7 linked regions of the Homo sapiens genome follow. The protein of the gene in region 1 interacts with the protein of each later gene in a biochemical or structural test. Each region holds a gene or a part of one and is shown in the gene's direction. Other genes may lie near its edges. The genes, in order: NEDD4L, NDFIP2, DDX54, TRPV4, PYM1, SENP2 and RANBP10.

Region 1 (2,407 bases):
ACCCACCACCACGCCTGGCTAATTTTTGTATTTTTAGTAGAGATGGTTTCACCATGCTGGCCAGGCTGGTCTTGAACTCCTGACCTCAGGTGATCCTCCCGCCTCAGCCTTCCAAAGTGCTGGGATTACAAGCATGAGCCACCGCACCCGGCCTCACAGTGACAGATTCTGAGAAACAGCATGCAAAACATTTGAACCATTTTCTACATCTCCCATTGTTGCATAGAGAGTGTGCACCGCTGCTATCTTGCCAGATCCACACTGGTCCTCCCGAAAGCCAGGTTCATACACAGCAACTTTTTAATTATTCTAACAGTTACCCATTAACAGTCGACTCCTGTATTTCTGAGAGTCTTGTACTCACCTCTGAAATTTAAAAACGTATAAAGAGAGCCTGGGTTAATCAGTTCTGCAGCCCCTACGTGACACTGTGCTAGTTCTCCTTCTTCTGTCTCCTCCTTACCCTGGCCCTGCACCCCTGTACTTAAGAGGGAGAGGTGGGAGGTGCTGTCTGGTATCATTTGCTGCCTCGCCAGTAGAGGGTGCCGCTGTGCAGGGTAACTGCCCGCCTGCTCCCTTCCTGACCTCCCCTGACCCCGAAGATCACTACCTCTGTCATTCAGGCATTGGGGTACATCCTGATAAGTCGTGTCAGAACTGCCAATTTCAGGACTGAGATGTGTTTTTAAAAAACAAATCCTTATAAACTCCACTTTGTACTTTAGATTTTAAAACTGGGGAAAAATGTGATATTCTTTGGACCACTTTTTTAATTTATATAAGCCTTAATGAACAGTGTCTATACATTTGCATACACACACCCCCACCCCAGAGTGTTCTCAGTATGTCAGAGAAAGTGCCACAGCATTAGGACGGGAGCTTGGAGAACGTTTTCTAGAAAAGGGTTAGCTTCCTGTTGGCATGAAATTTTCCAAGCAAACCTCATTAAACATCTGTTGTTTGTTAAAGATGTTCCACTGAAAGCAACGCATGTTTCAAAGGCACGTCTTTCCGTTCGTTGGTTTTCTGTGTGTAAGGAGTAGCATTGCTGTTGGCGCCTAACCTCGCGTGCACTGCATTCTCAACCCCGTACCAGTGCATCATCAGAAGCCTTCCTCGTGACCATAACTCTGTGTCTGCAGATATGTGTTCCCGTGTAAGCCAGTTTTCCCCTTTTACTCAGACTGATTTCACCTAGATTGTCACGGTTTCCTTCATGTTAACTTTGCGTGACTTTGTTCTTCCTTTACTACTCTGTATGTAATATATATACATATATACGTACATATGCTGTCCAAATATATTTGTATATATTTGTATAGCATTTTTACACCTTTATTGAGTAATCTGGTTTCGAAAGGAGGTGAGAGTTTAGTCCCTTCTGCAGTTTTCTCCAAGCTGTGTCCTGTGAATTTCAACCCTTGGAGCCTAAGAAAACCCTAGGAAGATGATGTTAATTTGCTGTCATTTCCTAATTCAGGATCTATCATCAAATGAAACATGAAAAAAACAGTGACTTTTAAGGTGAAAAGAGTTTCAAGCATTCCAAATAAATTATCAATGTTTCATAACTTTTTATTATAAACCCACCTCCTAATAGGAAGCCAAGTACTATTTGATACAGTGGTAAAAACCAAACTACCTTGAATTTTTTTAAGGCAACTTATGAATAATGCTCATTTTCACAGTCAGAATAGCTTTAAAATATGGTTGAATTTGATACACACAGGAAGTTTTCTTGAAGAACAATCCTTTCGCTTTTCTTTTTTCTTGAGAGATCTAAAGAGAAACTGTAGATTGTTTTCCTGACAGCAAAAGACTAATGTGACAAAATGAAGTCATTGTAAAGAAGCGATGCAACTTGTCAAATATTTAATAAAGAATTATGGAAGCTGGAACATTTTCTACATCAAGTGTTATGGGTTGTTTGATTTAAAGCTTCTTTGTGAATGCACCATCTTAATTGTTGTCAGAGGGGTTTAAATGCCTGCAGATTTATAGTATGTTCATTTCCTTCATCTCCCTAAAAGCGCCGCACTTTTAAAAACATTAAAGTCTGGCAGGGCACAGTGGCTCACGCCTGTAATCCCAGCACTTTGGGAGGCTGAGGTGGGCAGATCACTGAGGTTAGGCATTCAAGACCAGCCTGACCAACATGGTGAAACCCCATCTCTACTAAAAATACAAAAAATATATATATATATTAGCCAGACGTGGTGGCGCATGCCTGTAATGCCAGCTACTCAGGAGGCTGAGGCAGGAGAATCGCTTGAACCCGGGAGGCAGAGGTTTCAGTGAGCTGAGATTGTGCCATTGCATGCACTCCAGCCTGGGTGACAGAGCGAGATTCCGTTTCAAAAAAAAAAAAAAAGTCTGCCCAAAACACATGGCTTAAGCCTACTAAAAG
Region 2 (3,500 bases), on another chromosome or scaffold:
AAGATATATGATTGTAATAGTAATTTATATATTTTATAGCTTATAACATAGGCCTATAATAGCAATAGTAGTCCTGTATTGGTGGCCAGTTGTAAATTATTAAGTCATGGCTATGGCTACAAAATTAAATAGATTTTATTGGTTATTCTTTTTGAATTCTTTCTTCAGATACAGAAGTTTACGGTGAGTTTTATCCCGTGCCACCTCCCTATAGCGTTGCTACCTCTCTTCCTACATACGATGAAGCTGAGAAGGCTAAAGCTGCTGCAATGGCAGCTGCAGCAGCAGAAACATCTCAAAGAGTAAGAAAATTTCATCATTTCTTTTGATAAAATTATTTTCGTTAATTGATATATACATTTAGTAATACTAAAAACAGTTCTTTGTGTGTAAGTGTGTATGTAGATTTTTTTTGAGCATTATGGGTTTAAACTGCACAGGTCTACTTGTATGCAGATTGTTTTAAATAAATATATTGGAAAAATATTTTGGAGATCTGCAGCAATTTGAAAAAACTTGGGACAAATTGCATAGCCTAGAAATATCAAAAAAATTAAGAAAAGGCCTGTAATGAATGTATAAAATACATGTAAATAGTAGTTTATGTATTATCGACTGTTTATGTTATCAGTAAGGCTTCTAGTTAACAATAGGCTGTGAGTCGTTAAGTTTTGGGGAAGTCAGAGTTATACTCAAATTTTCTACCGCATGCAGGTGGGTCGGTGTCCCTAACCCGTGTATTGTTGAAGGGTTACTGTATTTGTTCTACTGTTGCTTATGTGTGTGGTCACTTTTTGTTGAAATTGGCATTCTCCTAGTTAAATTCACCTTCTTTATCCCTTGACTTCCTCTTTTCTATTGCTCTTCCCCGCTTATCCCTTCCTAAATTTTGATTTCAGGCCCCTCATGTGTTAGCCTTCACTTCGCATCCTAACTCACTCACTCTGGTTACCACCACTTGGAAAGTTCTTCTCTTTGCCTGGACCTCAAGTCCACTGACCTCTTTGCTGTCCATGTACTTATTTATCTTCTTACATAGTTTGAATTCCATGGCCTATCATTTTAATTGTGAATCATCTTTTTTTCTATTTATGTTTCTATATTAGCATAGCCAGTTTAGTGACTGTGAAAGAACTCAAGGTAGCCAAAAAACACAGAGAAATGTTACAAGGCCTTCAAATTATTTTTGTCAGCTGTTTTTTTTTTTTTTTTTTTTTTTGATAACATTCTACTCTAGAATTTTGGAATGATGATCAAGCATTCTGTCTTCCTCATCTACATGTTTTAGTAATGGAGTTAATGAGATACATGTGTATTACTCTTTGCTCTGGTAAATGGAGTGGCTGTCTCAGTAATGGAGAGTCAGTGAGATACATACACATCTACTATTCTGCAGCCAGGTAAGAGGCAGAAATTATTTACATTTTAGTGTGGCTGCAAGGAGGGCTAGAATTTTTTGCCTTTTTTTTCTTGCTTCAGACTTGAGAGATGCCGTTTCAGATCCCTGGATTCACCCCATTTTGTTCGGGAAAAAGACAAAAAAATCAATTCACCCAGGAAAGCTAGAATTAGGTGAGGAGTCAAGGGAGAGAGATGTGCTTCCATGTATGGCATTCTCCTCTAGCTGCTATGAGGTCAGAGCCCAGCAAGCAGATCCTCTGAGAGAAGAGCATGTGCCCTGAATGTGTTTCTTTGATCAGCAATAACCCTATTTATGCCTGCTCCTACTACCCTCTTCCAGCACACACAGGGTTAAACGTCAACATAAATAGCTTTGGACACAGTTATGAAGGTAGATAAAGACAGTAAACTCCGAATTTATTTTTTATGCCTTTTCCTTCACAGAGGAGGAAAGTAAGTCTCTTAACACAGTGGCATAATATAGCTGAGTCAATAAGAATTTTTGTTGCTTTGAGGGGAACATCACAGAGGAGGAGGATAGATCTAAATAGGGTATTTTTGTCTAAATAAGTTCTCGGTTACTTAGAACACATATATTTGTAAATGAACATGCACATCTCTCAGTGAAGTAGATTGATTCCTCTCTAGCTATGAAAGTCCCAATAACTCCTTTTCTCAGGGGGTGTTTGCCCAGAGACCTTAAGAAGTATTATGGACCGTAGATCATTTACTGCCCTAACTTCCATACAATAGGATAGAATTCTAAAGACAAGGTAGGAAGCATTAAGTCTTGGTAAGTGTGCTTTGAGAAAAGTTGATTTTACCCCTTTTGAAGAGAAAAGTCTGAAGTATTACTGTTCCATTCCCTCATTGTCATCATTTCCAGCACCCTGTTTTAGAAAGTAAATGTAATCCTCAGCCAGAATTGGAACATGTCCATAAAGAAAAGCTCCCTGTTTTTACCTGCTTCTGATATCATTGTAACCCCAGCTTGTGAGCATTGTGGAAAATTTCATAGACAGCAAAGTATTAATAGAATTGTGTACAAGAGACTAACTTAGGTCTTGTAAAAAATCTTATAAATTTACCAGTGCTTCCTAACCCGGTGCTTCAGCACCCTCTTTGTGCAGAGTATGAATGTTTGCATATGAGTCTCCATTACCTGATTGAGATGAAAAATTGGTCAATGCTTGAAAATTGCTAGGAGAGTAGATTTTAAGCGTTCTTGCACAAAAAAAATATTTGAGGTACTGTACATGGTAATTAGCTCAATTTAGCCACTCCACAATGTATACACATTTTAAAACATCATGTAATACATCATAAATATATACAGTTTTTGTCAATTACAAACAAAATTTAAAAATTGAAAAAAAGTCTCATCAAATTAGCATTTGAGTACATTCAGTTGTAAATGAGTCTCAGCTGGGTGAGTTGAAAGCTTGTTTCCTAAATCAACTCTCACTGGGAGAATATAGATAGTCAAGAGACTTTAAAACTACTGTTTTTACTATTTCCTATTTCTGATGTGTAGAATTGCACGTATGTTATGGAATGGTTAAGTAGATTTCTGAAAATGACAACTCATTGTTAATATTTCTATGAAAAATGCTAATTCCAAACTATTAATTTTATAAGATGTTTAGAACATGGCTTGTTCTTCAGGTAGACTCATTTCATCTTATAATGGGTAGGGCTCTTTTTTTGTAACTTGTTTTAAATTGTTGCAGTAACTTGTCTTTTGACTAGATAAATCATGAGCAACACCAGGACAGAGATCTTGCATTTACATTCCCAGTACCTAGTTATTTATCAGGCACATTTTTGTTGTTTAGTCAATGACAGTTGATTAAGTTAATGAATGCTTTCTTTGTGTTAGCCAATGTGGGAAAATAGAAAGAGGAAAACACCACAGGTGTTCTGTTACAGCTCTCTATTTTAAAATATTTTGATGTCTTTACCAATTTCAGGATTCACAAATTAATGTTTAATGTAGTTGAAATTATTGCCTAGATACCATTTTATTTTTTAAACATCTTATATAAATATTTCCCTGTTACTTAATAGTTAAATTCCCTGTAATCAATATGCTATTGAAA
Region 3 (4,292 bases), on another chromosome or scaffold:
CCCAAGGCCTTCGATGCCTCCTTGCCCACGCCTCTGGTTCTGTTAGCCTTCTCCACCCAGGGCGGATCGAAGTCCGGTGGGGTAGGCCGGGTGCCTGCTGGGCTGCCAAACAGAGTCTCATCCACATATGACGTCCTGGCCTTGACCCGGTAGCCACCTCGGCAGCGGTGCTGAAGGCCGAGGGTCTGCATCCCACTGACGGCCAGCTCCACGGGGGTCTTCATGCTGCCTGTGGTCCCTGGTGACAGCAGGTGTGCTCTGCCGGCCAGGCCCTGCTTCCGAGGCTCCCTGTGAGAGGAGGTCAGAGTAGCACCCCTGAGCCACAGAAGTGCTAATGGAGGAAGACCGGTAGTGTCTGAAGTTCTCATCCCAAGGGTTTAGTTCTCTCTCAACCAGTCTCTCAAAGGGGAGCTGTCAACTTCAGGGGGCATTTTGGAAATTTCTTTGGCTTTTTTTTAGTTGTCATAATGGTGGTGAAAGGGGGGCTACTGGCAATTATTTACAGAATGACTCTGGCGGTGAAGGAGAGATGACACCTGTGTCTATTTAGGCACCAACCAGAAAACACACTATGGTGGTAGGGGAGACAGGCACTTTCCTATGTGTACTGATGGGGGTGGGGGCAATGACAGCCAGCGTGGATCCCATGCCTACCTCCTGCAAAGAGCTTTACAAGCATTGTTTCATTTAATCCTCTCAACAGCACTGTGAAGTAGCTTCGAATTTGTCCATTTTACGGATCACAAAACTGAGGTGAAGTCACATGTGTAGGTCACACCTATAAAGCTAAAACGGTGGAAGTGAAATCTGAGTCCAGAGCTTGTGTACTTGGCTACACTGCTATCGGGAGATCACCGCCGCCCCCACCGCCCCACATTCTGCGACTCCCAAATCAATGACCCGATTAAAAAGTGCCCGAGGTCCCTGCATTTTTGGGTTGTTCTCCTACCTGAGCATCTTGGCTCGTAGGCATCGGGATCCTCAGGGACCCGTCCCCGCACCTTCTTCCCACCAGGTCTGGACCCGTCGGTGAGGGCGCGGGGGCGCGCGGTGCATCCGGGATCCCCGTCAATCTGCAGCCCGGAATGCCTGGGGCCCCGGACCCCCGGCAGCCTAGGCCGTCCCGGGGCACCGCGCGCGGACGGACTCACCCGAGGAGCCGGCACAGGCTACGTGTGAACGGCCCGCGAATCCAGAAACCCAGAACCCAGCACTTTGCACCCAGCAACCAGGGAGCAGCCAGCAGCACTGCGGACGCGGCCCGGACCATTCGCGCCCGCGGATGGGGGGAGTCCGCCCAGGGGCGGGCGCCACGCTCCTGAGGCCCAGGAGGTCCCTAAACATGGAGAGGGTCCTCTGGTGCCACTCACTCAGGTGCGTGTGTACTAGGCCGCCGAGGGCCGCAGGCACTGGCGAAAGCTCAGCGGAGGTCACGTGGTCACCGCACCTCCCCCCCCCCCACGCAGTTGGTGCGCTCCTCAGGCCACGCCCCCTTCTGCGTTCCCAGCGCGCGGCCCGAATGGCGGCCGACAAGGGCCCGGCGGCTGGACCTCGGTCGCGAGCTGCCATGGCCCAGTGGAGGAAGAAGAAAGGGCTCCGGAAGCGCCGAGGCGCGGCCTCCCAGGCCCGCGGCAGCGACTCGGAGGACGGCGAGTTTGAGATCCAGGCGGAAGATGACGCCCGGGCCCGGAAGGTAGGCGCGTGGGGCTGGGACGCATGTTCGGGCCCGAGACCCGGCTCCGGGCAGCGCCTCGAGGCCTCAGTTTCCCCAGCTGGGGATTGGGCTCCGCAGAGTGTGGGGAGGGAGGCTGCCGACCCGAGGACCGGTCTTGGGACCGCCGGCCTGAGCACGTGTCTCGGGGCTTGTCAGGCTCAGGGTTCCGCGGCCAGAGCCTTGGGATCCCGGGGCTGGAGCCTGCGGGCCTTCCTGCCGGGTTTTGGTCGCGCGTCTCTCATTGGCTGCCTCCTGCTCGTGGGGCGGATCCTGGCTCCCTTTCGCCCAATGAAAAGTGCGGGTGCAGAAGATCTGACTTTGAGAGTTTGGAGCGTTCTTGGGAGGTTGAATTAAGGGGAGGCCAGACTGCGTGGCTTGAGACAGTGTGACGCCTCCAAACCTCTGGGAAACGAATTAAAACAATTTTTTTTGAGACAGAGTCTTGCTCTGTTGCTCATGCCGGAGTGCAGTTGTGTAGCCACGCCTTGCTACAGCCTCCGCCTCCTGGGCTCAAGCGATCCTCCCACGTCAGCCTCTCCGGTAGCTGAGACCACAGACATGCGCCACCACGCCCGGATAATTTTTAAATTTTTTGTAGAGACGGGGGTCTCCCTATGTTGCCCAGGATGGTCTCGAACTTCTGGCCTCAAGCAGTCCTCCCACTTCTGCTTCCCAAAGTGTTGGGATTAACAGGCGTGAGCCCGGCCAGTTTGTGTTTGTTGACCGTTTACTATGTGCCAGGCTCCATGCTAAGAGCTGTACGAGCCTTATTATTTAATCCTCACACCAACGTTGTGCTAACACCACCAGCAACTGTCATCTTCATTTTTCTACAGGAGGAAACTGAGGCCTAGAGGGTTAAGAAATAGTCAAAGGCCTGGTGTAGTGGCTACACGCCTGTAAACCCAGCACTTAGGGAGGCTGAGGTGGGAGGATTGCTTGAGGTCAGGAGTTCAAGATCAGCCTGGGCAACATAGGCAGACCCCGTCTCTACAAAAAATTAAAAAATTAGGATGGCCGCGGTGGCTCACGCCTGTAATCCCAGCACTTTAGGAGGCTGAGGCAGGCGGATCACCTGAGGTCGGGAGTTCAAGACCAGCCTGGCCAACATGGTGAAACCCTGTCTCTACTAAAAATACAAAAATAGCCAGGTGTGGTGGCATGTGCCTGTAATCCCAGCTACTCGGGAGGCTGAGGCAGGAGAATCGCTTGAAACTGGGAGTCAGAGGTTGCAGTGAGCCGATATTGCACCACTGCACTCCAGCCTGGGTGACAGAGCAAGACTCTGTCTCAAAAAATAAAAATTAGCCTGGCTTGGTGGCGCCCACCTGTGGTCCCACCTCCTGGAGAGGCAATGTGGGAGGATCACTTAAACCTGGGCGGCGGAGAGTACAGTGAGCTGTGGCTACACAACTGCACTCCATCATAAGCAACAGAGCAAGACTCTGTCTCCAAAAAAAGAAAAAAAAAAAAAAGGGAGATCCCATCTTTACAAAAAAAGAGAGAAAGCAGCTTGACCAAGACCTCACAGCTTGTGAGTACAAGAGCCAGGAGATTCAAACTTGAGACTGTCTGATTCCAAGGCCTGTGCCGTTTCCATTACTGAATGTCATGTGTATGCACATGAAGGGATGGGTGTGAGCACCAATGGGGCAGAAGGGCTGCGCCCATTATTTCCCACAGTCCTGTTCCCAGCGGGTGCCTGGCACCAGGTAGGCTCAGGGCAAGATGAGTAAGTGGACATTTATATGAAGAGAAAGGATCACACTCCAAGGCAGGAACTAGAAGAGACCTCATCCCACTGTCCCTCTCTCATCTTCCAGCCTAGCCAGTACCTGGCACACAGTAGGTGCTCAACAAATGTAGAGAAACTACTAAAGGTAATGAACAGCACAGGCGGGCAGAGGTGGTTATTACCAAAGAAGAGGAGTCTAAGTGTAGTTCAGACCAAGGGCTTCTCACGGCACTGCCCTGTGTTCAAATTTGGCCCAACCTTGCACTGGCTGTGGGACATTGGAGAGGTTGCTTAACCTCTCTGTGCCCGTTTCCACATCCGTAGAAGGCAAGTAAATGATTATATATGTTTCAAAGGTTGTTGGCCCGGTGCCGTGGCTCATGCCCGTAATCCCAGCACTTTGGGAGTCCGAGGAGTGAGGATCACTTGATGCCAGGAGTTCGAGACCAGCCTGGGCAACATGCATGGCGAGACTGCATCTACAAAAAATACAAAAATTAGCCAGGCATGGTGGTGTGTGCCTGTAGTCCCAGCTACTTGGGAGGCTGAGGTGGGAGGATCACCTGAGCTAGGTGAGCCGTGATTGCCCCACTGCACTCCAGCCTGGGAGACTGAGTGAAACTCTGTCTCAAAAAAAAAAAAAAAGTGTTGAAAAGACCAAAGGAGGCTGGGCGTGGTGGCTCATGCCTGTAATCCGAGCACTTTGGGAGGCCAAGGTGAGCGGATCACTTGAGGTCGGGAGTTTGAGACCGGCCTGGCCAACATGGTGAAACCCCATCTCTACTGAAAATACAAAAATTAGCCGGGCTGGTGGCATGTGCCTGTAGTCCCAGCTAGTTGGGA
Region 4 (3,500 bases), on another chromosome or scaffold:
ACCTGGGAGGTGGAGGTTGCAGTGAGCCAATATCGCGCCATTGCACTCCAGCTTGGGCAACAAGAGCAAGACTCATCTCAAAAAAAAAAAAAAGATGCAAAAAAAGCCAGGCTTGTTGGTGCACACCTGTAGTCCCAGCTACTTGGGAGGCTGGGGTGGGAAGATCACTTGAGCTCAGAGGGTCAAGGCTTCAGTGAGCTATGATTGTGCCACTGCACTCCAGCCTGGGTGACAGAGTGAGACCCTGTCTCAAAAAAAAAAAAAAAAAGATTCCAAGATTCTGAGATGCAGCGAGTCTAGTGATCATGAACTCGGGATCTGGCCCTAAGATGCTGTGGTGGCGGATACTCTAAGGCTCTATGATAATAAGTCCTGAGTTCACAAGTTCTAAGAGGCAAAGGCAGCAGGGGGCCAAGAACTGGGCCAATCCCCAGTTGAGATTCTGTAAATCAGAGTTGACCTTCAGATGCCTGGATATTAAGATTCAAAATCCATGAATATTATATCTTGAGTCCAAAATTCTGGGAGGCCAAGGTACTGTTGTTTCCTCTAGGAGTTTTCTTTTTTTTGAGACAAGGTCTTGCTCTGTTACCCAAGCTGGAGTGCAGTGGTGTGATCATGGCTCACTGCAGCCTTGACTTCCTGGGCTCAAGGGAGTCTCCCACCTCACCCTCCCAAGTAGCTGGGACCACCGGCATGGACCACCATGCCAGGCTAATTTTTAAAATTTCTGTAGAGACAGGGTCTCACTATGTTGTTGTATTAGCCCGTTCTCATGCTGCTATAAAGAACTGCCCAAGACTGGATAATTTATAAAGGAAAGAGGCTTAATTGACTCACAGTTCCGCAGGGCTGGGGAGGCATCAGGAAACTTACAATCATTGTGGAAGGGGAAGCAAACATGTCCTTCTTCACATGGTGGTAGGAAGAAGAAGTGCCAAGCAAAAGGGGGAAAAGCCCCTTATAGAATCATCAGATCTCTTGAGGACTCACTCACTATCATGAAAACAGCATGAGGGTAACTGCCCCCATGATTAAATTACCTTTCACAGGGTCCCTCCCATGATACATGGGGATTATGGGAACTACAATTCAAGGTGAGATTTAGGTGTGGACACAGAGCCAAACCATATCAGTTGCCCAGGCTGGTACTGAACTGCTAGGCTTCAGCAATCCTCCTGCCTCAGCCTCTGGAGTAGCTGGGACCACAGGTGTAAGTCACCAGGCCCAGCTAATTTTTAGCATTTCTATAGAGATGGGATCTCACTGTGTTGCCCAGGCTTGCCTCAAACGCCTGGGCTCAGGTGATCTCCCTCCTTGGTCTCCCAAATTGCTGGGATTACAGGCGTGAGCCTGCGCCTGGCCTCCTCTAGGATTTTTAAAGCATCTTATGAATCTAAAAACTTCTCACATTCAGGATTCCACAAACTAGGTATCCTTCAGGCTTGAGATTCTGCTTCTGCGATGGATCCCAGGGAATATCCAAGGACCTATTTGCTGCCCTTGGGTGTCGCTGGGCAGGACTCTGCCTGCATCCCCCACCCCCCAATTTCTACGTCCTGCACCCTACCCCCACCCCCAGCAAGCCTGGCTAGGTCTCTGCTCCGCCAGGACCCTGGATGACCGTCCCCTGCCCCCAGGTCAGACAGCCCTGCACATCGCCATTGAGCGTCGCTGCAAACACTACGTGGAACTTCTCGTGGCCCAGGGAGCTGATGTCCACGCCCAGGCCCGTGGGCGCTTCTTCCAGCCCAAGGATGAGGGGGGCTACTTCTACTTTGGTAAGGAGGGGCCTGGTGGGGGCTGACAGCATGCTGGAGAAGCATGGCGGGAGATAGCATGATACTGGTTGGTGTCTGCAGCCCTGACCATCACCCAGACACCCAGGGCCACTCTGGCCATGAGCGCAGGCAGCACTCTGGACCACAGGCTGCACGTTGGTCTTGGTCACAGGGCCGTTGCCTCTGAGGTGTAAGTGCCATGGGGAGTACCATGGACCTGGATTCAGATCCTCACTCCAGCCAGGCACGGTGTCTCACACCTGTCATCCCAGCACTTTGGGAGGTCAAGGCAGGAGGATCGCTTGAGGGCAGGAGTTTGAGACCAGCCTAGGCAACATAGCAATACCCTGTCTCTTTTAAACATTTAAAAAATGGCTGGGCACGGTGGCTCATGCCTGTAATCCCAGCACTTTGGGAGGATGAGGCAGGTGGATCACCTGAGGTCAAGAGTTCAAGACCAGCCTGGCCAACAAGATGGTGAAACCCATCTCTACAAAAATAACAAAAATTAGCCGGGCATGGTGGTGGGTGCCTGTAATCCCAGCTACTTGGGAGGCTGAGGCAGGAGAATTGCTTGAACCTGGGGGACAGAGGTTGCAATGAGCCGAGATTTCCCCATTGCACTCCAGCTTGGGTGACAGAGTGAGACTCTGTCTCAAAAAATAAATAAATAAATAAATAAATAAATAAGTTAGATGGCATGGTGGCATGTGCTTGAAGTCCCAGCTGCTTGGGAGGCCGAGGCTGGAGGATCACTTGAACCTAGGAGTTCGAGGCTGCAGTAAGCCATGATTGCACCACTGCACTCCAGCCTGGAAAATAGAGCAAGACCCCGTCTTTAAAAAGCAAAAAGAAAAGAACAAAAAAAAAGCCAAATCCTCACTCTGCACTTTCCAGGCATGTGACCTCACTTCCCTGAGCCTCACCTTCCCCAGCTGTGCAGTGGGGATCACGAGAGGCCCTTGGGCTGTGATGTCAGCGCCCAGCTCTGTATTGTCTGTGTGCTTTAATCTGGTTTATGCTGGGACCAACAGCCCCATCACCAGGCCCAAAGCCCACCACTGCCGTTGTCATCACTGGACTCATGAAATATTTTGAATTTTGCCCCTGCTTAAAGGCATTCATTATGTGCAGCTCAGGGACAAAGTCACACAAAGAATTCCATCATCAGCTGGGCGCGGTGGCTCACGCCTGTAATCCCAGCACTTTGGGAGGCCGAGGTCGGCGGATCACTTGAGGTCAGGAGTTTGAGACCAGCCTGGCCAACATGGCGAAATCCTGCCTCTACTAAAAATACAAAAATTAGCCAGGTGTGGTGGCGTGCGCCTGTAATCCCAGCTACTCGGCTGAGGCACAAGAACTGCTTGCACCCGGGAGGTGGAGGTTGCAATGAGCCGAGATTGTGCCACTGCACTCCAGCCTAGGCGACAGAGTGAGACTTTGTCTCAAAAAAAAAAAAAAAAAGAATTCCATCATTGGATGTGTCCAGTCCCTCACAGCCTCCAAATCGCGTGGCTGTGCCCTTAACTAGCCACACCCCATCTCCCTGGCATCACCCAGAGAAACGTGCAGTTCATATCCACTGCTGGTGCTGTCTCCGTCATTATCCTCAGAGCGCCACGGTGTCCGTCCCCCGAGTGTCTGCAGGCAGAGTCCCACCCTGGGCCCCCTTCGCTGACCTCCCACCCTTCACCCTGGCCCGCAGGGGAGCTGCCCCTG
Region 5 (2,982 bases), on another chromosome or scaffold:
TTGACCTATTTTTTTAAGTTCCATCTAAATAAAATTTCTCCTTTACAACATCCGCTATTGTCATTTCTCCTCCCCGTGGTTTTTGTGTCTTTTTAGCCTCTTGTTCATTTACTGCCTTTCATGTTCCCATGCTATTGCCTTGGTTTTTTAACAAAATTCTTCCTCTGTGCCTATCCTGTCTTACCTACAAATAGAATCTTCTTGAGGGCAAGGATGGTTTCTTGTACGGTGTATTGGCACTCGGTAAATAAATAATGAGAGAGGGATTGAGTGTTGGTATGAGAAAAGGAGCCTAATGGTTGCATTTGGATGAATGGGTGCTGAGAGATGGTATGTACATTTATACATTCTTGTCTCATCTTGTAAAATGTTTGAAAATAAGAGTAATTTTCAACTTGATTTTTCTTATTTTAGGCAAGTATATCGCGTCAACACAGCGACCTGACGGGACCTGGCGCAAGCAGCGGAGGGTGAAAGAAGGATATGTGCCCCAGGAGGAGGTCCCAGTGTACGTGGTTAGGCTTTGCGTAGGGGTTTTCTGATGGGGTCCCTACAGAAGGATAGAATATCCTTATGCCTACAAGTTCAGGGAGGACTCTCCTAAGCCCCAAGGAAATGGAAGGAGGGGCAACTATCTGAGAAAGGAGAGAAAGAGTCTGGGATTCAGGGATGAGTGAGGGTTACAGATCACTAGTCCTATACTTTTGACCTCTGTTCATTAGAACCTCCAGAGCTTTAGGTTCTAGGGACTTCGCTGCATCTTTCCTGCAGAGCAGAGGAAAGTTGGGGAGGGACCATAAAGAGAGAAAGGTGGTCAGGCCCAGTGGCCTACATCTGTAATCTGAGCACTTTGGGAGGCCTAGGCAGGTGGATTACTTGAGGTCAGGAGTTCAAGAACAGCCTCCCCAAAGTGGTGAAACCCCGTCTGTACTAAAAATACAAAATTACAAAATACAAACATCAGCCAGGCGTGGTGGCACGAGCCTGTAATCCCAGCTACTCAGGAGGCTGAGGCAGGAGAATCTCTTGAACCCGGGAAGTGGGAGGTTGCAGTGAGCTGAGATTGCGCCAGTGCACTTCAGCCCTGGCGACAGAGCGAGACTCTGTCTCAAAAACAAACAGGCAGGCGCAGTGGCTCTCTGTAATCCCAAGCACTTTGGGAGGCCAAGATCGGTGGATCACCTGAGGTCAGGAGTTGAAGACCAGCCTGACCAACATGGTGAAACCCCATCTCTACTAAAAATACACAGTTAGCCAGGCGTGGTGGCAGGCGCCTGTAATCCCAGCTACCCGGGAGGCTGAGGCAGGAGAATTGCTTGAACCCTGGAGGTGGAGGTTGCAGTGAGCTGAGATTGCGCCATTACACTCCAGCCTGGGCAACTGAGCGAGACTCTATCTCAAAAAACAAACAACCCCACAAAAACAACAACAAAAAAAGGAAGCAAGAATGTAATGAGGATGAAGTGTTTGGAAGTTTAAGAAAAGGGATCAAAAAGTCAGTAATTCTCTGAAACTCTTGACATCCTTTGTTTCCTGCAGATATGAAAACAAGTATGTGAAGTTTTTCAAGAGTAAACCAGAGTTGCCCCCAGGGCTAAGCCCTGAGGCCACTGCTCCTGTCACCCCATCCAGGCCTGAAGGTGGTGAACCAGGCCTCTCCAAGACAGCCAAACGTAACCTGAAGCGAAAGGAGAAGAGGCGGCAGCAGCAAGAGAAAGGAGAGGCAGAGGCCTTGAGCAGGACTCTTGATAAGGTGTCCCTGGAAGAGACAGCCCAACTCCCCAGTGCTCCACAGGGCTCTCGGGCAGCCCCCACAGCTGCATCTGACCAGCCTGACTCAGCTGCCACCACTGAGAAAGCCAAGAAGATAAAGAACCTAAAGAAGAAACTCCGGCAGGTGGAAGAGCTGCAGCAGCGGATCCAGGCTGGGGAAGTCAGCCAGCCTAGCAAAGAGCAGCTAGAAAAGCTAGCAAGGAGGAGGGCGCTAGAAGAGGAGTTAGAGGACTTGGAGTTAGGCCTCTGAGGCCTTTGGGGAATAGGGAATGGACTGCAGAACAAACCGTGGGGCTCTCTGGGGTCTGGGGGAATACGGGCAACAGCAGTCAGGAGGGGTACCCCCCATACTGGCTTACTTCCACCTCCTGCGGCCCAGCTCTGTCCTCCAGAGCCTAGCGTCTCCCTCAATCCTTCCCTTTTCTTCCCAACTTCTACTTTTTGGACTTTCCCCCTCCCATTCCCAGTGTTCAAAATCTCAGTGACTACCCCAGGTACCTTTGCTGCTGATTTGGGTGTCTTGTTTAAAAGAAAATCAGGTGGGTGGGAATCTCTTGGAGAACTGAGGCTGAGGGTAGAGGGAGTATGCCCAAGTCTTGGAGTCTTGGTTCCTGTTCGCGGTGTTTATGGGTTATTTCCCTCTCCATCCCTCATTTTTTTTTTTTTTTTAAAAAAAGCAAAAATGAGAATAAACACAAGTAGACATGTCTGGCTTTGCCTCCTTATTTTCAGCTCCTAGTAGATATTGTATCTCCTGAGTTTGGCACAGGAAGACAAGTATTGGGAGTGATTTCTTTTCTTTTCGAGACAGAGTTTTGTGCTGTTGCCCAGGTTGGAGTGCAGTGACGTAATCTGGGCTCACTGCAAACTCTGTCTCCTGAGTTCACGCAGTTCTCCTGCCTCAGCCTCCCTCCCGAGTAGCTGTGATTACAGGTGCCCACCACCACACCTGGCTAATTTTTTAGTAGAGATGGGGTTTCACCATGTTGGCCAGGCTGGTCTTGAACTCCTAATTTCAGGTGATCAACCCACCTTGGCCTCCTAAAGTGCTGGGATTTTAGGCATGAGTTACTGTGCCCAGCCGATATATATTTTTTTCTTTTTCTTTTTTTGTGAGATGGAGTCTCGCTCTGTCTGCCAGGCTGGAGTGTAGTGGCGCGGTTTCAGCTCACTGCAACCTCTGCCTCCCGGGTTCAAGCAATTCTCCTG
Region 6 (3,500 bases), on another chromosome or scaffold:
TCCAGCCTAGGTGACAGAATGAGACTCTGTCTCAAAAAAAAAAAAAAAAAAAAAGGCAGGAAGCATTGAAAATACACAACTTTTTTCTTCCTTCTGAGTTGTTGGAGTTTTGCCTCTGTACAGTAGCCACCTTTGTTTATGAGAGACCAATCTGCCTCCATACCAACATGTTACCTACATTTTATGGCTTCTTAGGGAGAATTTCTTAAAAATCATACATCTCTGGAAAGAGATGATATGTTCTGGGTTGCTGGCAGAATTCTATTTGTTTACTACAATTGTGGTTATATAGGTGTTCATTCAAATTAAGTGGTACATTAATGTTTTGTGCATTTTCTGTAATATCAAATGACTTTTTTCAAGGATAAACTAGAACCAAGTTGAGTTACTATAAAGATAGTAGGGATTTATTCTGAGTGATGGGATTGTGGGTCATATTTTTTGCTGTTTAAAACTTTCATAATATCTTTTAAACATACTAATTTTAATTGTGATAGGAGAACTGAAAATACTTTTCTTGCTACTTCCAGGGAAGGTGGTGAGTGTTCTGTTTGATGGTTCATAACTGAGGGTCCTGTGAGGCCTAGGTCTGGAGCTTTTTTTGCTCCCCCTTGCAGGGACAGACAGATAGGGTAAATCTACTCACTTGGGGGATTTGCTAATTCTCTTTTCTTTCACATTAGTGGCAGTTTTATATTTCATGTGTAATCTGTGTTTATATTTGCAAGTATCAAACATGTCAGTAGAATTTAGATAATTTTTTGATCAGAGGAGGGGATACCAACTGGAGCCTGACCTATCAGAAGAAGTGTCGGCCCGACTCCGCCTGGGCAGTGGAAGCAATGGCTTACTCAGGAGGAAAGTGTCAATAATTGAGACAAAGGAAAAGAATTGCTCAGGCAAAGAGAGGGACAGAAGAACGGACGATCTCCTTGAACTTACAGAGGTATTGTTCTTTGTATTGATCCTAAAAAGAGGCATGTCTTTAAATAACCTCAGTTATTCTAACTTGAATGTTTTGTTTTGAGGACTTTCTCCAGGCTAGGGGTGAATATATGAAAACATGTCAGGTCCATGGTCTGTTGATTCACTTTGACTACATTGATCTTTAGTGAGGCATGATCATTAGTGGCCTAAGGGATCAGATTGATATTCAGCAAATGGGGAGTCGACACAGTCATCTCATATCTTGGAATACAACAGATTCTTTGTAAATTCTAACCTTCAAATATGTTGAGTTATATAGTATGGGTTTGGCATTAAGAATAAGTTCATTGCATTTTTTTTTTGAAAGTTATTATAGTTTACTAAAATGCCCCCTTTGTTGATTATTGCATTTGAAAATAGTAAAAACTTACAGAACATAAAGAATGAAGGTAGTTAAAATTCTTATTTTAAAGATGTGCCCACATCTTGGCTTCCTCCACAATGTTGCCCTAGTAGGCAAATCTCTTGAATACTTACTGTTATATTGGGCATGTAGGTGGAGAGAGAGATCCATAAAATGGTGAAGCTGTGTGCAGTGGGAAGCAGCATATATTTAGAAGAAAATAATTTCTTTTTTTTGAGACAGAGTTTCGCTCTTGTTGCCCAGGCTGGAGTGCAATGGCGCGATCTTGGCTCACTGCAACCTCTGCATCCTGGGTTCAAGTGATTCTCCTGGCTCAGCCTCCCTAGTAGCTGGGATTACAGGCACCTGCCACCATGCCCAGCTAATTTTTGTATTTTTAGTAGAGACCGGGTTTCACCATGTTGGCTAGGCTGGTCTCGAACTCCTGACCTTAGATGATCTACCCACCTCGGCCTCCCAAAGTGCTGGGATTATAGGCGCAAGCCACTGCCCCCGGCCTAGAGGAAAATAATTTCTATTGGGTTTATAGATTTAGTTTTGTATCTTAAATAATGCATTTATCTGCATAATTCTTTAGTATGATGAAGCCATTTATTCCATAAGGAGTCAATTGCTAGACTGCTGGGTGGTTTCCAAGTTTCTGCCTGTTTGCTTATTCTCTTCATGTCAAAAAGGATGGTGTGACCCCTTAGATGTCCTAATCTTATTTTGATGTTTTATTTATTTATTTATTTTTGAGATAGAGTCTCGCTCTGTTGGCAGGCTGGAGTGCAGTGGCACAATCTCAGCTTACTGCAACCTCTGCCTCCCAGGTTCAAGTGATTCTTCTGCCTCAGCCTCCTGCGTAGCTGGGACTACAGGCGCGTGCCACCACGCCCAGCTAATTTTTGTATTTTTAGTAGAGATGGGGTTTCACCATGCTGGCCAGGCTGGTCTCGAACTCCTGACCTCATGATCCGCCCGTCTTGGCTTCCCAAAGTGCTGGGATTACAGGCGTGAGCCACCACACCCAGCCTTTTTTGATGTTTTAAAAGTTTAAAGGCGAGAATGGGCGTGGTGGCTCACGCCTGTAATCCCAGCACTTTGGGAAGCCAAGATGGGCGGATCATGAAGTCAGGAGTTCGAGACCAGCCTGGCCAGCATGGTGAAACCCCGTCTCTACCAAAAATACAAAAAAATAGCTGGCATGGTGGTGTGCACCTGTAATTCCAGCTAATCAGGAGACTGAGGCATGAAAATTGCTTGAACCTGGGAGGCAGAGGTTGCAGTGAACTGAGATCATGCAGCTGCATGCACTCCAGCCTGGGTGACAAAGTGAGAATCTGTCTCAAAAAAAAAAAAAAAAGAAGGGCCAGGCTGGTGGCTCACACCTGTAATCCCAGCACTTTGGGAGGCCGAGATGGGCAGATCACGAGGTCAGGAGATCGAGACCATCCTGGCTAACACAGTGAAACCCCGTCTCTACTAAAAATACAAAAAATTAGCCGGGCGTGGTGGCGGGCGCCTGTCATCCCAGCTACTCGGGAGGCTGAGGCAGGAGAATGGCGTGACCCCGGGAGGCGGAGCTTGCAGTAAGCCGAGATGGCGCCACTGCACTCCGGCCTGGGAGACTGAGCGAGACTCCGTCTCCAAAAAAAAAAAAAAACGTTTAAAGTGGAAATCAGGAGTTTACTATTATGAAGGGAGCAAAGTCCAGGAAATTAGATGCACCTGGGTTCAAATCTTCTTCTACCTTTTAATAATTATATGACTTTGAATATGTAAAATAAATTCTCTGGGTTTCAATTTTCTTCTCTATAAAATGATAATAATGTCTTCCTCACTAATATGGATCAATGATGTGCTTCAAGCATCTAACACCATGTTTGACTCATAGTGGTTAATACGTAGTAGTAGGAAAATTGAGACTATACTTTAGATGTAAATATTATTATTAAATTATTGTTTCCACAAGCTAATAAGTGAACCAGGATTTGTTGTAAGTATTACTTACAACAATTAAGTAAGGCTGCTTTGTAGTTATAAGTTAAAATATTTTCAGGGCTGGTGCAGTGGCTCATGCCTATAATCTCAGCACTTTGGGAGGCCAAGGCAGGTATTGCTTGAGCCCAGGAGTTTGCAACCAACTTGGGCAATATAATGAGGCCCC
Region 7 (3,991 bases), on another chromosome or scaffold:
AGAGTCCCAGAACCTGCCAAAGCAGCCCCCTCTGATGCTCGCCCTGGGCCAGGCATCTGAGTGTCTCCGGCTCATGGCCCGAGCAGGCCTGGGTTCTTGCTCCTTTGCCAGAGTTGATGACTACTTGCACTAGCTGACTGTGCTGGCTGGCTCTGGCTGGCCCTCCACTGGCCCCAGGGCTGGAGCTGCCCTGCCCTCCATAGGCAACTGGTGCAGGGACTGGGAAACCATAGACAGAGTCCACTCCTCCTGCCTGGCCTTTCCCCCTCTCCCTTTCCTTCCTTCCTTCCTTTCTCTGCCCACCACCCCGCTCAGTCTCTCTCTCTCTCCCCTTCACGTGCAGCGGCCTGTAACACAGTATTGGCTGGTTACTCTCATGTAGCGCCTTCTATTTTGAAAGGGGGGTTTTGTTTTGAGGAGGGGTTGGGGTTTTTAAATTTTTTTCTCCTGACTGAGCCACCAGTATTTATCTCTGGAGAGTTTGTGCTGAGCTGGTTTCTGCTAATTTAGTGATGAAGCCTATCCAAGTTGGTGATAGCTTATTATTTTCATAAGTAAAAAACAAATGAGATTATATATATATATATAAAAATATATATATTAAAAAAAAAGACAGTATTTATCGTAGCATTAGTGGTCCAGCACCTCTTGGGTGAGGCTGTCCAGGCACCATGTTTTCTTTGAGTCCAACTCATTAAAAAAGAAGAATCTCTGTCACCTCAGCCAAGTGATTTATTTTTTGCTCCCCCTTTTTTGAGTCACAGGCCGAGCTGCAGCCTAGGAAACCCAAATAGGGTTTGGTGGGCCACTTAGTGGGCATGGTTACATTGGTTTATAGCATCCCAAGAACTGTAGATCCCTAGGCCCCTGAGAGCTGGACAGAGCAGAGAACTACAGGGCCAAGGGTCCAGAGAAGTGATAACTTGGCCCAGGGCCACACAGCAGAGGTAGAGGGTCCTTGGCCAGCACACTATCTACCACTCTACCCCACCTCCCACTGCCTGCCTTGCTCCCCTTTCCTCCCTTTTCAATACCCTATCTTCCCTTGTTGTTAAGATGGCCAAATAATACATTTACTCTAAATTGATTGCCTGGAAACTACCTGCCTTCGTCCTGAGAGCTTCTGTGTGTCAGGCTGCTGGAAAGAAGACTCCATTCCCAGGACAGAGGCCCTTGAGTACAGGGGCTGCTTTCTTCCTGCCTAGATCTTCACCATCTCTGCACAGCTCTGAGAGAATGGATGCTTTCTGTTGAGAAACCAGTACCTTGTGGAGGCAGGTTCTTGGGCTGCTACTCCAGGGAGTGGATGGAATCCTTGGTCCCCTAGGCCAGACTTCACTGCCACTGTGCCAGACAGCTCCCTGCAGCTGGGCCCTAGCCACTCTTAGGAAAGACTATTGGGAGTATTTGCTGGCCAGAGAATGGGACTCTATCAGCTTTACACATGTCCCACCAGCTGTTTCAGATAGATCCTTACAGCTGGCAGAGTAAAAGTGGTCCCGCTACCATTGGGGAATCAGGAAAGGAAAGACTGAGATGGTTGCCAGGACTTGGGGTGGCCCACCTGTGGAGAGGACTGGCTGCCCTGGAGGAGGAAAGGGAGGAAGTCTACACAGAGGAGCACCAGGACGGCTGGAATTTCCATATGTGCTTCACATTGTGAGGGGAGTGCACAAGCCGCCCATGCAAAGAGTAGGGTCAGCCATGGCAAGGCCGGAAGTTGAACTTTCAGTCCCTGCCTGAATCTGGGCTTTGCAAGCTCCTGCTCCATATTGGTGGACATGGGAATGGTTGGTGTGGCCTGAGATACCCATTGCTCACCAGGCCTCACTGGGCCCACAGCTGGGCAACAAGAAAAATGTTTGAATTGGACCAACTGCTGGTGATGGGGCCAGGGCCCTGGGCCCTGTGCTGTCAGAATTCTGCCTTGGGAAATGATCCTATAGCTGCTGCTTTTTCTTGGTCCTTGGGGCTGGCAGACCCATAGACCATGGCCTGTTAGGAGGCGTCCTGTCTGTAAAGGAAATTCATCTCTTGTGACAGCCTGGGGCTACCTAGCTCCCAAACCCAGAAGTTGGAGACATCAGGCTGTTTAAATGATCATAGCCTAGCAGGATTGGATTAAAACCACAGGCTTTTGCAGCTGGAATGGGGTTCAGTGAACATCTCCCCCATTCCTCTCTTGCTACAAATAAGGAAACAGGCCCAGGAGATTAAGTGACTTGGCTAAAGTCACATAGCAAATTAGTAGCAGAGCCGGGACTATCCCTTATCCCTGTGGGTTGGGCAACACTATTTAGTCCTGAAACCGAATGGCAGATAAACCCCATGAGGGGTCAGGCTGATGTGCCCTCCAGCAGTATCTGAGAAGCTGCTACCTTCAGGGGTGTGTCAGGGATGAGGACGGGTGCCTGAGCTTAGGTTGTGGAGTGGCTGAGAGGGCCCAGGAGGGCTCGGGACAGCTGTGTGCTGCATGGGGTTGGGTGTCTGCCTGGCTCGCACTTGGTACCCATGGCCACCTCCCCATTTTCTGTGCCTTATCTCACTGTTTCAGCTGAGTCCAAGTTGTTTACTCTGTTCCTCTCCAGAGGGGCTCTCTGTCCCAGTTGGGCAGCTCACCTTTGGGACATAAGCCTTTGCCCCACAAGCTGTGGAGAGGGCCAAAACCAAGCTGCTTGAGCCCACTCTCTTGCTGAGAGTCCAGGCCTGCCTGCCTGCCAGCCAGAGGTGCCCCTTATGCACATCCAGTCCTACCAGCCTGCTTCCAGGAGCCTAGAGTGGGAAAGGCACCTGGGGGAGCCCTGGTGAAGGGCTGGACCTGACCCATGGAGGCAGGAGGAAGACCTGGCTTTCTTGGTTTGTCCGGCCCTGGGGAGCAGCCTTCCCTACTCACTTTCCCCTTGCGGCACCAAATGGTCACTCCTTCCAGAGCAAAAACTGGCACTCATAGCAAGCCAGAACCCCCATCCCCATCCTCATGGGTCTGTGGCTGGGTGCAGGCCATCAAAATGGACACCACGAGACAGAAGTGGGGACTGCCTGGCCACCTAGCGCCTTCCCACTCCTTAAGCAAGCACAAAGAAGATGAGGCAGAGAATTGTCAGAGCTGAAAGTTCCTTTGGTTGCTCACAACTCAGGTATGCACCCATGTGGCAGCCAGGCAGCGGAGCCCTACTAGACTGCCAGTCTCATGCACCCAGACCTGTGGCCAGATTGTGGCCTCTGGCTGCCTCAGGCATTTTCCTCTTTGCATTGGGTTTTCCTGCATTAGTAACTACAGCTGCAACAGACATCCTCCACATTGTGCACACTGGTTTTGCCTTTGTCCTCAAGAGTTGATACTTGGCATTAGCATGAAACTTGTGGGTGTGGGAGGATGGAGAGAGAACTCTAACACAAAACATCTTATTAAAATTGTACTTGAGAGACAAAAAAAAAACTCTGTTGTATTTTGACAGAATTATTTTTATTAAAATACACATCCATGAGCAGTCATGTGTGTCTGGTCTCTGTTTTGAGTCTTACTGAGGTTGGCACCCCTTCTGTGACACATCCTGTCCTAAAGGATTTGGGCCCTTCCCAGCCTCTCAAGTGCCCAGGCCCTCAGGTGCCTTCTTCAAGGACCTTTGAAACTGTGTATTTGTAAGACCCCAAAGAGGACAGGTACTTAAACCTCAGTTCTCTCTTGAAACGGCTTTCTTCTTATACAAGGAAAAAGTAGCAAATTCAACTAAAGAGCCTGGGCACAGTGGCTCACGCCTATAATCTCAGCACGTTGGGAGGCTGAGGCAGGTGGATCCCTTGAGCTCAGGAGTTCGAGAACAGCCTGGGCAACATGGCAAAACCCCATCTCTACAAAAAATACAAAAATTAGCTGGGCATGGGGGCGCATTCCTGTGGTCCCAGCTATTCAGGAGGCTGAGGTGGGAGGATCACTCGAGCCCAGGAGGTCAAGGCTGCAGTGAGTTGAGATCATACCACTGCACTCCGG

What was found.
Region 2: of the proteins of NEDD4L (region 1) and NDFIP2, one has a biochemical effect on the other in vitro, tested with the Homo sapiens proteins (2 studies listed by BioGRID, with this or other methods).
Region 3: the proteins of NEDD4L (region 1) and DDX54 form a complex in vitro, tested with the Homo sapiens proteins (one large-scale study listed by BioGRID).
Region 4: the proteins of NEDD4L (region 1) and TRPV4 interact in a test that uses a peptide from one of them, tested with the Homo sapiens proteins (one large-scale study listed by BioGRID).
Region 5: of the proteins of NEDD4L (region 1) and PYM1, one has a biochemical effect on the other in vitro, tested with the Homo sapiens proteins (one large-scale study listed by BioGRID).
Region 6: the proteins of NEDD4L (region 1) and SENP2 form a complex in vitro, tested with the Homo sapiens proteins (one large-scale study listed by BioGRID).
Region 7: of the proteins of NEDD4L (region 1) and RANBP10, one has a biochemical effect on the other in vitro, tested with the Homo sapiens proteins (one large-scale study listed by BioGRID).

The regions. Positions count from the first base shown.
Region 1 is NC_000018.10:58,399,633-58,402,039, forward strand, and holds the end of NEDD4L (E3 ubiquitin-protein ligase NEDD4-like), read left to right. Parts: 3' UTR 1-1,907; downstream 1,908-2,407. UniProt on the Homo sapiens protein: E3 ubiquitin-protein ligase that mediates the polyubiquitination of lysine and cysteine residues on target proteins and is thereby implicated in the regulation of various signaling pathways including autophagy, innate immunity or DNA repair.
Region 2 is NC_000013.11:79,533,155-79,536,654, forward strand, and holds part of NDFIP2 (NEDD4 family-interacting protein 2), read left to right. Parts: intron 1-168; coding exon 169-302; intron 303-3,500. UniProt on the Homo sapiens protein: Activates HECT domain-containing E3 ubiquitin-protein ligases, including ITCH, NEDD4, NEDD4L, SMURF2, WWP1 and WWP2, and consequently modulates the stability of their targets. As a result, may control many cellular processes.
Region 3 is NC_000012.12:113,182,679-113,186,970, reverse strand, and holds the start of DDX54 (ATP-dependent RNA helicase DDX54), read left to right. Parts: upstream 1-1,492; 5' UTR 1,493-1,519; coding exon 1,520-1,693; intron 1,694-4,292. Other genes in the region: RITA1 (RBPJ-interacting and tubulin-associated protein 1), read right to left, coding at 1-288, 950-957.
Region 4 is NC_000012.12:109,798,899-109,802,398, reverse strand, and holds part of TRPV4 (transient receptor potential cation channel subfamily V member 4), read left to right. Parts: intron 1-1,640; coding exon 1,641-1,781; intron 1,782-3,486; coding exon 3,487-3,500. UniProt on the Homo sapiens protein: Non-selective calcium permeant cation channel involved in osmotic sensitivity and mechanosensitivity. Activation by exposure to hypotonicity within the physiological range exhibits an outward rectification.
Region 5 is NC_000012.12:55,900,913-55,903,894, reverse strand, and holds the end of PYM1 (partner of Y14 and mago), read left to right. Parts: intron 1-414; coding exon 415-508; intron 509-1,539; coding exon 1,540-2,023; 3' UTR 2,024-2,482; downstream 2,483-2,982. UniProt on the Homo sapiens protein: Key regulator of the exon junction complex (EJC), a multiprotein complex that associates immediately upstream of the exon-exon junction on mRNAs and serves as a positional landmark for the intron exon structure of genes and directs post-transcriptional processes in the cytoplasm such as mRNA export, nonsense-mediated mRNA decay (NMD) or translation.
Region 6 is NC_000003.12:185,613,795-185,617,294, forward strand, and holds part of SENP2 (sentrin-specific protease 2), read left to right. Parts: intron 1-769; coding exon 770-946; intron 947-3,500. UniProt on the Homo sapiens protein: Protease that catalyzes two essential functions in the SUMO pathway.
Region 7 is NC_000016.10:67,722,570-67,726,560, reverse strand, and holds the end of RANBP10 (ran-binding protein 10), read left to right. Parts: intron 1-2; coding exon 3-133; 3' UTR 134-3,491; downstream 3,492-3,991. UniProt on the Homo sapiens protein: May act as an adapter protein to couple membrane receptors to intracellular signaling pathways.